Linked DNA regions of Homo sapiens. The protein of the gene in region 1 purifies or fractionates together with the protein of each later gene. This does not show direct contact. Each region holds a gene or a part of one and is shown in the gene's direction. Other genes may lie near its edges.

Region 1 (4,216 bases):
AGTCATTCTTTAAAAAGCCTGCCTAGGAACTACAGCCACCCAACTCACCTTAGTAGCCTTTCCATGAGCCTTAGGGTCAACCTAATTATGGGTTCTGTGCTGTGCAAAGTTGCAACAGCAGGCTAAGCATGGGATAGATTCCTATACAAAAGTCTCAGCCATGTGTCTTGTTATTACGCATAGAATTTTGAATTTATTTAAGAGGGCATTCCAGGGCTAAAGAAGCATGAACTTAAGCATCCCTTCTTCTGTGTTGGAGAATTCAATCAGGTAGAAGTTTGGCCCGCTTATGTGTTAAAGTTTCCCTTTCTCTGATTCACCTTTAAGGACAAATAAAGATGTCCTTTAAGGACATAATGAAGATGTCTCTTAAGGCCATCTTTATTATGCCCTGTTTAGCTCTTGGGGAAAAGCTAGTAGAGGCAGAATCCCGAATGGGAAAGGTGACCAGTTGAAACAGTTCAACTAGCAACAGGTGAGATGACTGGCATGGAACCTGCAGTTCGAATTATCCCATCTATTCTGGTACATTAAAAAAAATTAAGGAATAATAGTCTTTGCCCTTCACTAGAGATGACTTGAAACAAAGTTCAGTTAATAATGTAAAGAATAGTTTGGGGTCAAAAACGAGGCAAGGCCACAAAGTAGAAAGGTTGGGTGAGGTTCTTTTTGTTTTTTTTGAGACAGAGTCTTGTTCTGACACCCAGGCTAGAGTGCAGGGGTGAGGCTCTTAAACTGGCTGTGAATGCAGATCAAAAGAAATTCATTCCAAACATGTTTTCATTAGTGCCAGATGGATGACTCTTACAGAGAATTGGATTTCTAATCAAATTTCTCTGACCAAACTCTTTATCAGCACCAACCAGATAAGAGAGCATTGAATGAGAATCAGGGGTAGAATTGGGGGGAAAATCCTTCTGGGATGCTGGAAAGGTAGGCAAAGAGATAACTGTTCAGAGACTCTTGGATACTGATCCTGCTTTCTGTCTGTGGATGAGGTTGTGGACTGAAACTGAGTTCGATTCAAGAAATGGGAGAGCCCAATTTTTGTAAATATTCCTTTAAGTGATCCCATGCAGATTATTCCTGAGTTCCTCAGGAAGAGTAGGTCTGTGGGAAACAAGACACTCAAACTCTAAGTGGTTTTTTGTTTTGTTTTGTTTTTTTGTTGAGATGGTCTCACTCTGCTTTTGCCCAGGCTGGAGTGCAGTGGTGCAATCATGGCTCACTGTAGCCTCCACCCCACAGGCTCAAGCCTTCCTCCCACCTCAACTTCCTGAGTACCTGGGTCTATAGCTGCATACCACCATGCCTGGCTCATTTTTGTATTTTTTTTCTGGAGACAGGGTTTTGCCATGTTGCCCAGGCTGGTCTTGAACACCTGGTCTGAAGCAGTCTACCCTCCTCAGCTTCCCAAAGTGTTGGGATTACAGGCATGAGCCACCGCACCTGGCCTAAAAGTGCTTTGTTAATTCCCTCACTCCACAACAACAATCCACACAGAAGACTTCTGTGACCAAATATATGGGAAACTTCCCCCACACACCAAGCAAGCAATCACTTCTGCAGTGGACACCATGCGAGTGCCCTCCAATTTAAGTCTGACACTATCTACCTGCAGATTGCATCAGATTCCATAGGTTGAGAACTCAGTTCCACAAAGCTGCCTTCCCTCTTTAGACAGCAGTCGCAAGTCTGGGCCTCTAGAACTTCTGACTGACCAGCTTCAAGCTGGGGTTCCCATGACCCCTTCTTTGGGTTTAATTTGCTGGAATGGCTCACAGAACTCAAGGAAACATTCTAACTGCTGTATTACAGAGGATGTTTTAAAAGACACAAATAAACAGCCGTATGAAGAGATATATGGGGTGAAGTCTGGAAGGGTCCTGAGTGCAGGAACTTTATCCCTGTGAGGCTGGGGTGTGCCACCCTCCAGGCATGTAGATGAATACTTGTTCCTCTTTCTGTCAGCCTTCACATGGTCAGCTATGTGGAAGTTCTTTGAACTCTGTCCTCTTGGGCGTTATAGGGAGACTTCATTGGACAGCCATGATTGATAACCATGTAGAAATGTGATTGGACAAAGCGGGTATGATCTAATACCATTAGACTGAGTGGGGAAACACAGCAAGGCCTGTCCATTCAGCTTCTTGGCCTCTCTGTGAAGCATTTCCTCCTCCAGGGTATGAGGCAGGACACCTTCTGAATGAGTGTCTTATGACCCACAATCGGATTAGAGACCTGCCTTGGGCTGGTGAAAGGAGGGAAGGAGATCAGAGAGATAGATTCTGTTTTCTGAGGCCTGCTTTTGAGTCCTAAAGCTTCTCAACATTATAACAAGAGTCTGTAACAAGGGCTATGGTAGTTGTGAGCTAGGAACCTGTATTAGTCTGTTCTCATGCTGCTGATGAAGACATACCTGAGACTGGTAATTTGTAAAGAAAAAGAGGTTTAATGGACTCACAGTTCCACATGGCTGGGAAGACCTCACAATCATGGCAGAAGACGAAGGAAGAGCAAAGGGACTTCTTACATGGCAGTGGGTAAGAGAGGACTTGTGCAGGAAACTCCTTCTTTATAAAACGATCAGATCTCGTGAGACTTATTCACTATCACAAGAACAGCATAGGAAAGACCTGCCCCCATGGTTCAGTTACCTCCTACCAGGTCCCTCCTACAACACATGGGAATTGTGGGAGCTACAATTCAAGATGAGATTTGGGTAGGGGCACAGCCAAACCATATCTAACTGTAGAAGAAAAATTATATATGTATATATAATAATATTACAGTAGGAAAACCCAAGTACCAGAGCTTGGCTGTTTTCTAAACCCTGGCAGGATCCTGCCTGCCTGAGGAGGATCACCAGCTCCTTGTACTTATTAGACAAAAAGGTTATCCGGGAGAAGCTGTGACAAGTTTTCTATATCTGCTTCTGCTCTGGGGGCCTCACAGCCCCATGTTGATTGGCTCAATAAATCCACTGCTTCTAGTGCGTGCAGTAGGGGAGGTATTTGTTATCTCTTATCACCCGAAATGGTTATATATTAAAGCAATCAATAGCTACCTAGAATCTATAAGTTATTATATACAGTCATGCACCGTATAACATTTCAGTCAACAACACAGTTCATATATGATGGTGGTCCCATGAGATTATAATACTGTATTTTCACTGTCCCATTTCTATGATTAGAATTACCTACAGTATTCAGCACAGCAATATGCTGTACAGGTTAGTAGCCTGGAGCAACAGGCTATACCATATAGTCTAGGTGTGTAGTAGGCTATACCATCTTGGTTTGTTTAAGTACACTCTATGATCACACAATGATGAAATTGCCTAACAGCATGGTTCGTTAATGCCTGCCCTGGTTCGTTAGTGCCTGCCCAGATGTTGTGAGGGTGACATGACATAATGTCCAGAGTGCTCAGAGCGCTTCACAAACATGGGTGCCCTCCACTGTTGACTCTCCCTCACATGCTCACTCCCTTAGAACCCCGATGAGCCACAAACAGCTGGGCCATTGGACAGTGCCTCTCTGACTACTTGACCTTGCCGTCTCCTGACACTCTTGATTATTTTCAGAGTACGGAGGAAAGTGGAAAATGCTTCATTACTTTGCTCAGAATTTCTTTGCTCCACTGTTGCCAGTAGGCTTTGAGAATGAAAACACGTTCTATATCTATGGTGTGTCAGATCTTCACTCGGATTATTCGATGACACTCAGTGTAAGTTACTTGGATTGTTTTCTAAGATCGAAGGAGACTTTTAGATGATTTCTTTAGTTGTTTGGTTACATTCTTTTGGGAAAATAAAAGAGAAATTAATTTAGAGTTAGAATACATATATTCAGGCTACAACCCTGCCATTAATCATGTGACCATAAGCAAAACCCTTCACATCTTGTTGATTCAATTTCTTCTCAGTAAAATGATACCAGTCTCTCTTCTTACAGGATTTCTATGAGTAGGAAATAAAATAACTAGATGAAAGCAAATCACATATGCTATAATGTGCCCCTTAAATGCAAGGTTATTTATAATTGTGAGAGGCTGGAAATAGTCCAAACTTTATAAAAAGAAATGGTTAAAAATGGCATGTTATAGTGAAAATCAGTAAAACTATTCAGAATGCGCATGTGGAAAGCAAATTTGTTTTAAAAAACAAATTTAAGTAAAAAGAAAGGCTAGAAACTCAAAGTCTTAGGTGGCT
Region 2 (2,793 bases), on another chromosome or scaffold:
AGACTGGGCTGGGCCTGGTCCTGGGCTCCAGCCTCCAGCCTCCACTCACACCCTCCTCTTCCTCAGGATCATCTTCTCCACGCCCCTGGCCGTCATTGCCTACTTCCTCATCTGGTTCGTGCCCGACTTCCCACACGGCCAGACCTATTGGTACCTGCTTTTCTATTGCCTCTTTGAAACAATGGTCACGGTGAGTGTGGGTACCTCCCTTGGGTGTCTCTAGGGGCCGGGAGGAGGGCGGTCCTTGGGGCCCCCAGGGTTGGTACTGGAAGCTACATCAGTGTGTCCACCCGCCTGACCAGCCAATGACCTGTCTTCTATGCCAGTGTTTCCATGTTCCCTACTCGGCTCTCACCATGTTCATCAGCACCGAGCAGACTGAGCGGGATTCTGCCACCGCCTATCGTGAGTCTCCCCAGCCCACCTGACCCCACCCTCCAGGGACCCTCCAGCCATACTTCTTCCCTTGCGGGTCCAGCTCTTTGCTCTGCTCTAGAGTGTGGGTGTGAAACCATCTTAAAAATAACTCAATCCCCTTATTGCTCAGATGAGACCTGGAGAGGTGCATATGCGTTCAAACCAAGGTGTCACCTACCCCACTACCTCTACCCACCCTGCCTGGAGCTACCGCTGGGCTCCCACCCATTTGACCTTCCTCCCTGGGCCCACAATCCATGAGGCCCCTCCAAAACACCTCCTTTTCTCCTGCCAGGGATGACTGTGGAAGTGCTGGGCACAGTGCTGGGCACGGCGATCCAGGGACAAATCGTGGGCCAAGCAGACACGCCTTGTTTCCAGGACCTCAATAGCTCTACAGTAGCTTCACAAAGTGCCAACCATACACATGGCACCACCTCACACAGGGAAACGGTGAGGCCCTGGGCAGGGCAGGGATTTGGGGAGATAAGGAACAGTGAGGTGGTTTGTAGTCATCCTAAAGATAGTAACAGCTAGTGTTTATTAAATAAATGTTGGGCATTTGATATACATAACAATTAATGCACCCAATATACCTACTTTGCAGAAAAAGAAACTGAAGCTTAGAGAGGCTGAATAAGTTGCCCAGAGTCATAAAGTTAGTGAATTGCAGAGATTTGGGAAGATTTGAATTCTGGGCTGTCAGACTCTGCAGCCTGGTTTCTGTTTTTTTCCTTTTATTATTATTTGTAGAGACGGGGTCTTGCCAAGTTGCCCAGGCTGGTTTCAAACTCCTGGGATTACAGGTGTGAGGGCTGCACTCAACCAGCCTGGTTTCTGAGCATGTTGTGAATCTTAACTGTCCAGCCTTGGGAAGCAACAGCAGGCCCAGGATGATCCTCCCATTTCACACATGGAGACAGTACGCTCCCAGAGGGGAGGGGACTGGCCCAAGATCATTGAGTGGGGCTGCTGGAACTGGGGTGCTGGGATGAGCTCAAACTGACCATCCTTGTATGTCGCCTTCACCTCCTTATAGCAAAAGGCATACCTGCTGGCAGCGGGGGTCATTGTCTGTATCTATATAATCTGTGCTGTCATCCTGATCCTGGGCGTGCGGGAGCAGAGAGGTAAGGGGGTGCCTGGGAAGGGGTGCAGGCCTCAGCATGGACAGCTGTATCTTTCTGCCTGGCCCTCAGGCTTTGGGAGGGGTCTCTGCTCCTTCCTCACTGTCCGCTCTGGCCCCCAGAACCCTATGAAGCCCAGCAGTCTGAGCCAATCGCCTACTTCCGGGGCCTACGGCTGGTCATGAGCCACGGCCCATACATCAAACTTATTACTGGCTTCCTCTTCACCTCCTTGGCTTTCATGGTGAGTGGGTTCTGACATGCTCAGCCTGAGAAGGAGGTGTAATGGGAGCGGGGTGAGCAGAGGTCTCTGGGGCTTGGGGGATGTCTTGGGGAGGCTCAGCCCCAACATCACCTCCTTCCTTGCATTTCCTTCCCTACCTTGCTCCATGCCCAGCTGGTGGAGGGGAACTTTGTCTTGTTTTGCACCTACACCTTGGGCTTCCGCAATGAATTCCAGAATCTACTCCTGGCCATCATGGTGAGTGGGACCTGAGCAGGGGCGGGCAGCCTGGGCTGAGGTGACATAGGCTGTGGAATGGTTCTTGGAATAGGCAGAGGATGTTTCTCAGGCTGGCCCAAGGTCATGAAAGGATGAGGGAGGCTTCTCAGGGTATTTGGTTGGACCTTGCGAAGGTAGGACTGTGAAAGAAAGAGTTTGAGGTTAGATGTTTGAGTAGTGAGCACAGCAAAAGCAAGGGCGAGGACACCAGGAACTTGGCTCAGAGGTTTGAGAGGGCAGCAGACAAGGTGGGCCTGGACCAGCTCTGAGCTCCCCTGGGGAGCCGTCAAAGGTGCCTGTCATCTTCGTTGCTGCCCACATGATGTCATCTGGCTGCTCTTGGGCAGGGCTGGGAGCCACTTTGGGGTTCTGGGAAGGGCAGGAGGGGCTCTGTGGCTCTAAAGCACCTCCCTTTAACCCCCTTTGTCCATCCACAGCTCTCGGCCACTTTAACCATTCCCATCTGGCAGTGGTTCTTGACCCGGTTTGGCAAGAAGACAGCTGTATATGTTGGGATCTCAGTGAGTGGGGTTGAAGAGCAGAGCCTGGGTTGAGTTGGGATGTCTGGTGGGAACCTCCCAGCTGATTCATCTTCCTGCACCCCCTTCCCTAGTCAGCAGTGCCATTTCTCATCTTGGTGGCCCTCATGGAGAGTAACCTCATCATTACATATGCGGTAGCTGTGGCAGCTGGCATCAGTGTGGCAGCTGCCTTCTTACTACCCTGGTAGGTATATACAGGCCCCCC
Region 3 (3,507 bases), on another chromosome or scaffold:
AGTCCCCTGTGTATCCTGCCGGCACCTCCTCCAGGGAGCCTCTGAGTCTTGCCTAGTTGAGCAGCAGCCCCCATCCCTGTCCTCCACAGCCTTCAGTGCAGTCCTACAGGGCAGCCTCTTCGGGCAGCTGGGCACCATGCCCTCCACCTACAGCACCCTCTTCCTCAGCGGCCAGGGCCTGGCTGGGATCTTTGCTGCCCTTGCCATGCTCCTGTCCATGGCCAGTGAGTGCACTTGGGTGGCTGGAGGGCTGGGGTGGCCTCTGAGGTTTGGGGAAGAGAGAGGGCATGTGAGAGCAAGACACATGGGTTCTGGGTGAAGATGGAGGTAAGCAGGTGATATGGAAATGGGGATTGGGTCTGGGGCTAGGGAGTGGGGCTCATGGGCCCTGCAGTGAGGAGTAATAACCAAGTGAGGACTGGGTTAACTCAGGGACAGGGGCAGGATTCCTGGGGCTAATACTGGCATGTGGCAGCAGGTTGAAGTTGAAGGATAAGGGGATGGGTTTGGGATTCAGATAGTCTTGGGTTTGAATCTGCTTCACCGCTTACCAGCTAGGGGTGTTGGACAAGGCTTGTCACCTCTCTGTGCTAGCTTCCCCACCGACGTGATTGGTATAGCTCCCTGCTCAGATTGTAATGAGCATGCAATGAGAGAAGGCTACTGGCACATAGTACGTGCTCAACAAAAATGACACATGGGGAAAGTGAGAGAAGTGCAGGGCTGCTCTGGGGCCCTGTACAAGATTCCCATTTGTCAGTGAAGGGAGGAGCGGAAGAGGCTGGGAGTGGGTCTGAGAAGTACACAATGGGAAGTGGGACAAGAGTTGGAAGCCCCGTGGGAGCCGGCGGGACCAGGTGCCTCTCTTCTGCAGCTGAAGTTCCTCCGCAGGTGGCGTGGACGCCGAGACCTCTGCCCTGGGGTACTTTATCACGCCCTGTGTGGGCATCCTCATGTCCATCGTGTGTTACCTGAGCCTGCCTCACCTGGTGAGCCTGCTGTTGGGCTCGAGGCCCCACCTCAAAGCATCTTGGATAGAGTCCTGAGCCTGAGGCCCTGAGAGAGGCCAGGGGAGGTGGAGGAGACCTGGTCTCAGCCCTGACCCCCAGAGAAGACACTGAGGGGCCCCAGCCTCCAGGCCAATGGTATGGGGAGGGATCCAGACACCTCAGGCAAGCCAGGCAGGCCCAACACTTTCCTGTCCTTCTGCAGAAGTTTGCCCGCTACTACCTGGCCAATAAATCATCCCAGGCCCAAGCTCAGGAGCTGGAGACCAAAGCTGAGCTCCTCCAGTCTGGTAAGCCCTGAGACCCTCCTGGGGAGGTGGGAGATGCAGAGGAAGCTAGAGCCACCTCCCCTGGGAAGCTGTTCCATCTGTTCCCAGCCAGAGCCCACCCCTAGTAGCCTTGTGCAAACAGGAAGATCATGAAGGGAAGTTGGTAGGATTAAAGTCATCCCTGCTGTTGTTTGGGCCTCAGTTTCCACCTCTATAAAATGGGGAGGCGACAGAGGTTCCATGCATGCAAACTTTGGATCCGAAGACCTCTGAATTGGAATACTAGTTTCACAACATCCCAGCTGTGTGGCCTGAGACAAACCACTTAGCCACTGCACCCCTCTGAACCTCAATGTGTCATTTGTAAAGCAATGGTAATGAGATAATCCATCTAAGGTGCTTCGCTCATCACCCGACCCATGCACGCGCTTCCTGGTAGCTATGCATATTTCCATCATGAATTCCCTTCGCCTGCAGCCTCAGCTTAGGCTGGAGGAAGATCACCTTTTTTTGTTTTGGGGTGAGGGGGTTGTTGTTATTTTGAGTCAGGATCTCACTCTGTCACCTAGGCTGCACTGCAGTGCTATCACAACTCAACTGCAGCCTCGACCTCCTGGGCTCAAGTGAGCCACCTCAGTCTCCCGAGTAGCTGGGACTATAGGTGCAGGCTGCCATGCCCGGCTAATTTTTTTATTTTTGTAGAAATGGGGATTCACCATGTTGCCCAGGCTGGTCTCGAACTCCTGGGCTCAAGCAATATGCCCGCCTCGGCCTTCCAAAATGTTGGGATTACAGGCGTGAGCCACCATGCTGAGCTGAGGATCACTTGTTTTAACTGCTGGGAATCTCCCTTCGTTGGGCCTGGCTGTCGGGAAACCTGGGTCACAAGCATGACCCTTCCCCGTCCCCCCTCACCCCAGATGAGAACGGGATTCCCAGTAGTCCCCAGAAAGTAGCTCTGACCCTGGATCTTGACCTGGAGAAGGAGCCGGAATCAGAGCCAGATGAGCCCCAGAAGCCAGGAAAACCTTCAGTCTTCACTGTCTTCCAGAAGGTTTGGCTTGGATACAGCCCCCAACCACCATCTTTGGGGAAGAATGGGGCTCACATTGACTCCAAGGTCATAGGGTCACAGTGGGTCAGGGACACAGCTGGGCCAGGCCCCAAGTGTCCTGCTCCCACATGGGGCTTGGGCAAGAGGGTGGGGCCCTGGGACTGCCCTGCCTGCTCACACCCCTGCCTCTGGCTCCCAGATCTGGCTGACAGCGCTGTGCCTTGTGTTGGTCTTCACAGTCACCCTGTCCGTCTTCCCCGCCATCACAGCCATGGTGACCAGCTCCACCAGTCCTGGGAAGTGGAGTGAGTGTCAGGGTGGAGAAGACGGCAGGGCAGGGGGTACAAAGGGGAGAGGACGGGAGAGGGGAGTTGGAGACCAGTATGAGCTGCAGCCGTTTCCCTCCCAGGTCAGTTCTTCAACCCCATCTGCTGCTTCCTCCTCTTCAACATCATGGACTGGCTGGGACGGAGCCTGACCTCTTACTTCCTGTGGGTAAGCACACCAGGGCTGGGTGATCCGATGTTTTAGGAAGCAGTTTGGGATCCGAGGGCTTGAAAGAGCATGGAGGTGATTTTCTGGTAGTCCAAATGGCCTGGTAATGCAACCACTGGCCAAGCAGCAGGGAGCACTTGGGCCCTGGAGGCGTGCAGGCCAGGGCTTGCACTGTGAGCTCCCTGAAAGCAAAAATCATGTCCAGCTGACCTCTGTGTCCCCAGCATCCAGCCTTTGCTGCTCAGAGAATGTTACATGGAGGTTCCTGCACCAGGTGAGGGACTGAGCAAGAGTCTTAGTTTTGGGGTTGGTTTTAGCCATGGTACTGTATCTTTAAATGAAATCTTCCAAAGAGACAATACATAACGCAGGTGAAAGAGGAGCTGGTCTCATCCAAGTCAGGACAGGAGCTGATCTACAGCTTCCAATCCCACTCAGAAACCCCATCTGCCCCCAAGGGGGTCTGTGGAACCACCAGTGGGTGCTCTGAGGAACCGAGTACGTAAACTGTAGATGCGGTGGAGAGCACAAGCTGGAGCCTGGGAGAGGCAGAGGTGAGCCCCAGGCCAGTCCCTGATTTCTGGGTGGACTTGGCCCAGGCCCCAGTGCTGGGTCCTCCCTCACTGGCTCACAAGGTAGGTCAGGTCAGAGGAGGTCAGGGGGTGACAGATGGGTCTATCCT
Region 4 (3,637 bases), on another chromosome or scaffold:
GCCTCCCAAGTAGCTGGGACTACAGGCCCACACCACCATGCCCAGCTATTATTTATTTATTTATTTATTTATTTATTTATTTGAGACAGAGTGTCACTCTGTTGCCCAGGCTGGAGTTCAGTGGCGTGATCTCGGCTCCCTGCAACCTCCACCTCCTGGGTTCAAGCAGTTCTCCTGTCTCAGCTACCTGAACAGCTGGGACTTACAGGCGTGCACCACCACGCCTGGATAATTTTTGTATTTTTAGTAGAGATGGGGTTTCTCCATGTTGCCCAGGCTGGTCTCAAACTCCTGGCCTCAAGTGATCCTCCCACCACGGCCTCCCAAAGTGCTGGCATTACAGGGATGAATCACCACACCCGGCTGCTAATTTTTAATTTTTTTGTAGAGAGGGGGGTCTTGCTATGTTCCCCAGGCTAGTCTCAAACTCCTGGCCTCAAGCAGTCCTCCCACCCTCCGCCTCCCAAAGTTCTAGGATTATAGGTGTGAGCCATTGTGCCCAGCCACACGTCTAAAGAATTCTAAGCGGACATTTTCCTAGTAGAAAGATCTCTATGACACAAACCTTGACTGGTTCCTAATCCCTCCTCCCTGTCTGCCCCCATTCCCCTACCCACAAGAGCAATGAAAGACATTTTGGGGAGAACTGGGGATATTTTAATAGGGAGTGGATATTAGATATGATGGAATAATTGTTTTTCTCAGATGTGATGATAGCATTGTAGTTCTGTCATTGTGTTTTGGAGGTACATGCTGAAGGATTTACGGGAGAAGTATCATTATGTCCAAACTCTACTTTCTTTTTTTTTTTTTTTTCCTGAGACAGAGTCTCGCTCTGTCACCCAGGCCGGAGTGCAGTGGGGTGATCTCGGCTCGCTGCAACCTCTGCCTCCCGGGTTCAAGTGATTCTCCTGTCTCAGCCTCCCGATTAGCTGGGACTACAGGCGTGCGCCACCACAACCAGCTAATTTTTTTGTATTTTTAATAGAGATGGGGTTTCACCATTTGGCCAGGATGGTCTCGATCTCCTGACCTCGTGATCTGCCCGCCTTGGCCTGCTTTGGTCTCCCAAAGTGGTGGGATTATAGGCGTGAGCCACTGCCCCCAGCCCAAAACTCTACTTTCAAATGGTTCAGTAGAAATTAAAAAGCAAATATAGGGCCGGGTGTGGTGGTTCACACCTGTAATCCTAGCACTGTAGGAGGCCAAGGCTCACGGATCACATGAGGCCAGAAGCTCAAGACCAGCGTGGACAACATGATGAAACCCTGTCTCTACTAAAACTACAACATTTAGCAGGGTAACTACAACATTTAGCAGGGTGTGGTGGTGCAGGGCTGTAGTCCCAGCTATACAGGTGGCTGAAGCAAGGTAATTGCTCGAGCGCAGGAGGTGGAGGCTGAAGTGAGCCGAGATCGCGCCACTGCCCTCCAGCTGACATGAGAGAACAAGGCCCTGTCTGAAAAAAAAAAGAAAAAAAGAAATTAAAAAGCAAATATATATAGAGAAAAACTTTTAATGGTAAAATGTTCATTTTTAAAATCTAGATGCAGGGCAGAAAAGTCTTGTCATGTTTAAACTCCTCTGGGTTTGAAGTTTCTGGAAATGAAAGGTGTGGGAACAGGTCTCTGGAGCAGCAGTGTGGAAGACGGGGTACTGGGGCTGGATGGAGTGTGGTGGTGGGGAGGGGAGTCAGGGAGCTGCTGCTTTAAGGCAGGAGTCTTCTTGGCATGGGTCTGTCAACCTCTTCTCTCCCCCGGGTCTGTGCTTCCAAATGCTGGTGCTGTTTGCACACTTGTGTCTTTGGCCTTCACTGGTTCTGCTTAGAATCTCCCTTCCATGGGTATCTACCTGACCATCTGCTCCTCTTCTTTCCAGTCTTCCACTCAACAGGTACTTCGTTAGAGCAGGCCCCCAGGCTGCCCTTACCCATGCCACAACAGCTACCTACTTCCTTGTGTCATCATTGAAGAGCTTGTCTGTTTGAGTTGTGATCGTGTTTGTCTGTCTGCCCTCACCAGCAAACTGAGCTCCCGTGAAGTCAGGGCCAGGTTCATCTGTGCATCGTCAGTGGCTGACAGGTGTAGTGCACAGTCTGTAAATAACAGTGATCATATTGCCGGGCGCGGTGGCTCACGCCTGTAATCCCAGAACTTTGGGAGGCCAAGGTGGGCGAATCACGAGGTCAGGAGATCGAGACCATCCTGGCTAACATGGTGAAACCCTGTCTCTACTAAAAATACAAAAAATTAGCCGGGCGTGGTGGTGGGCGCCTGTAGTCCCAGCTACTCAGGAGGCTGAGGCAGGAGAATGGCGTGAACCCGGGAGGCGGAACTTGCAGTGAGCCGAGATCCCACCACTGCACTCCAGCCTGGGCGACGGAGCGAGACTCTGTCTCAAAAAAAAAAAAAAAAAAAAGATCATATGAATGAAGCACGGTGTGCTCCTGCTGCCTCATCCTGTGGTCTCAGCGTTAAGTCCTTTCCCTTCTTCAGTTTCCTCTTCCCCGCCTGATCAGCACTCACAAGCTTCTTCTGAATGCACTCCTTTCTCTTCATCCCCACTGCCATCTTAACCCCAGACCATCTAGTGAGTATTTATTGAGTGCCTTCTGCATACCTGGTGCTGCTGGGCATGGCAGCCAGGGTGCCCAGGAAGCATGTTCCTGGCCTTTGTTGCTGCAGCCATATACCACGCTCCTGCCAGGCTGCTTTTGACACTTAGATTTTTTTTTTTTTTTTTGAAACGGAGTCTTGCACTCTTGCCCAGGCTGGAGAGCAGTGGCGTGATCTTGGCTCACTGCAACGTCCGCCTCCCAGGTTCAAGTGATTCTCCTGCCTCAGCCTCCCGAGTAGCTGGGACTACAGGCGTCCACCACCACACCTGGCCATTTTTTTGGTATTTTTTAGTAGAGACAGGGTTTGGCCATGTTGCCCAGGCTGGTCTTGAATTCCTGACCCCAGATGATCCGCCCACCTCGGCCTCTCAAAGTGCTGGGATTACAGGCATGAGGCACTGCGCTTGTCCGACACTTATATTTTTTTTGAAAACTTGACAGCATCTCACCCTACACAGAATAAAGTCGCCCTCGCCTCGCCCTCACGGTCCTCCCACATGCTCTTCTGCCTTGCTAAACAGCTTGCCATTCCAGACATATGCCATTCAGTGTCATGACTCCATGTCCCTGTACATGTTGTTCCCATTGACTGGAATTAGCACCTGCCTTCTCCACCTGTCTTGCTTGCCCTCCAAAACAGAGCCAGAGTGCCCCTACTGGAGTCCCTCCTGCACCTCCCAGGCCAAGCTGATGGTGGGTTCACTTGAGCTCTTGCAGTGTATGTCTAAGTTTACAGCATCTGTGGCCACTCTGGCTGTTTACTGATAGGTTTTTCCTGTGAGACTGAATAGGCTTGGCATCTGGTTTATCTTTGTATCCATAGAGCCCGGCATAGAATGCTGACTTGATTTCAAGTCTAGTGTTTTGTATAGTGCACCCTTCCTTATCCTCTGGAAAGTGCCCCCTACCATCTTGGCGATTGTCACTGTCAGTTAAGAACCCAGGCCCAAGCCAGATCTTATCATTTGGGCAGCCGTTGGCATAGCTGCGACTCGAATGACTAGATAGGTTGGGCATGTT

The links.
Region 2: the proteins of MANBA (region 1) and MFSD2A fractionate together in Homo sapiens (co-fractionation; one large-scale study listed by BioGRID). This does not show direct contact.
Region 3: the proteins of MANBA (region 1) and SLC29A2 fractionate together in Homo sapiens (co-fractionation; one large-scale study listed by BioGRID). This does not show direct contact.
Region 4: the proteins of MANBA (region 1) and NIPSNAP2 fractionate together in Homo sapiens (co-fractionation; one large-scale study listed by BioGRID). This does not show direct contact.

What each region holds. Positions count from the first base shown.
Region 1 is NC_000004.12:102,635,381-102,639,596, reverse strand, and holds part of MANBA (beta-mannosidase precursor), read left to right. Parts: intron 1-3,589; coding exon 3,590-3,732; intron 3,733-4,216.
Region 2 is NC_000001.11:39,965,145-39,967,937, forward strand, and holds part of MFSD2A (sodium-dependent lysophosphatidylcholine symporter 1), read left to right. Parts: intron 1-66; coding exon 67-190; intron 191-326; coding exon 327-405; intron 406-712; coding exon 713-870; intron 871-1,456; coding exon 1,457-1,547; intron 1,548-1,666; coding exon 1,667-1,788; intron 1,789-1,941; coding exon 1,942-2,025; intron 2,026-2,483; coding exon 2,484-2,567; intron 2,568-2,659; coding exon 2,660-2,772; intron 2,773-2,793. UniProt on the Homo sapiens protein: Sodium-dependent lysophosphatidylcholine (LPC) symporter, which plays an essential role for blood-brain barrier formation and function. Specifically expressed in endothelium of the blood-brain barrier of micro-vessels and transports LPC into the brain.
Region 3 is NC_000011.10:66,365,254-66,368,760, reverse strand, and holds part of SLC29A2 (equilibrative nucleoside transporter 2), read left to right. Parts: intron 1-89; coding exon 90-224; intron 225-891; coding exon 892-989; intron 990-1,212; coding exon 1,213-1,297; intron 1,298-2,196; coding exon 2,197-2,330; coding exon of another isoform or gene 2,331-2,529; coding exon 2,530-2,635; intron 2,636-2,739; coding exon 2,740-2,825; intron 2,826-3,507. UniProt on the Homo sapiens protein: Bidirectional uniporter involved in the facilitative transport of nucleosides and nucleobases, and contributes to maintaining their cellular homeostasis. Functions as a Na(+)-independent, passive transporter.
Region 4 is NC_000007.14:55,967,585-55,971,221, forward strand, and holds part of NIPSNAP2 (protein NipSnap homolog 2), read left to right. Parts: intron 1-3,637. UniProt on the Homo sapiens protein: Protein involved in mitophagy by facilitating recruitment of the autophagy machinery required for clearance of damaged mitochondria.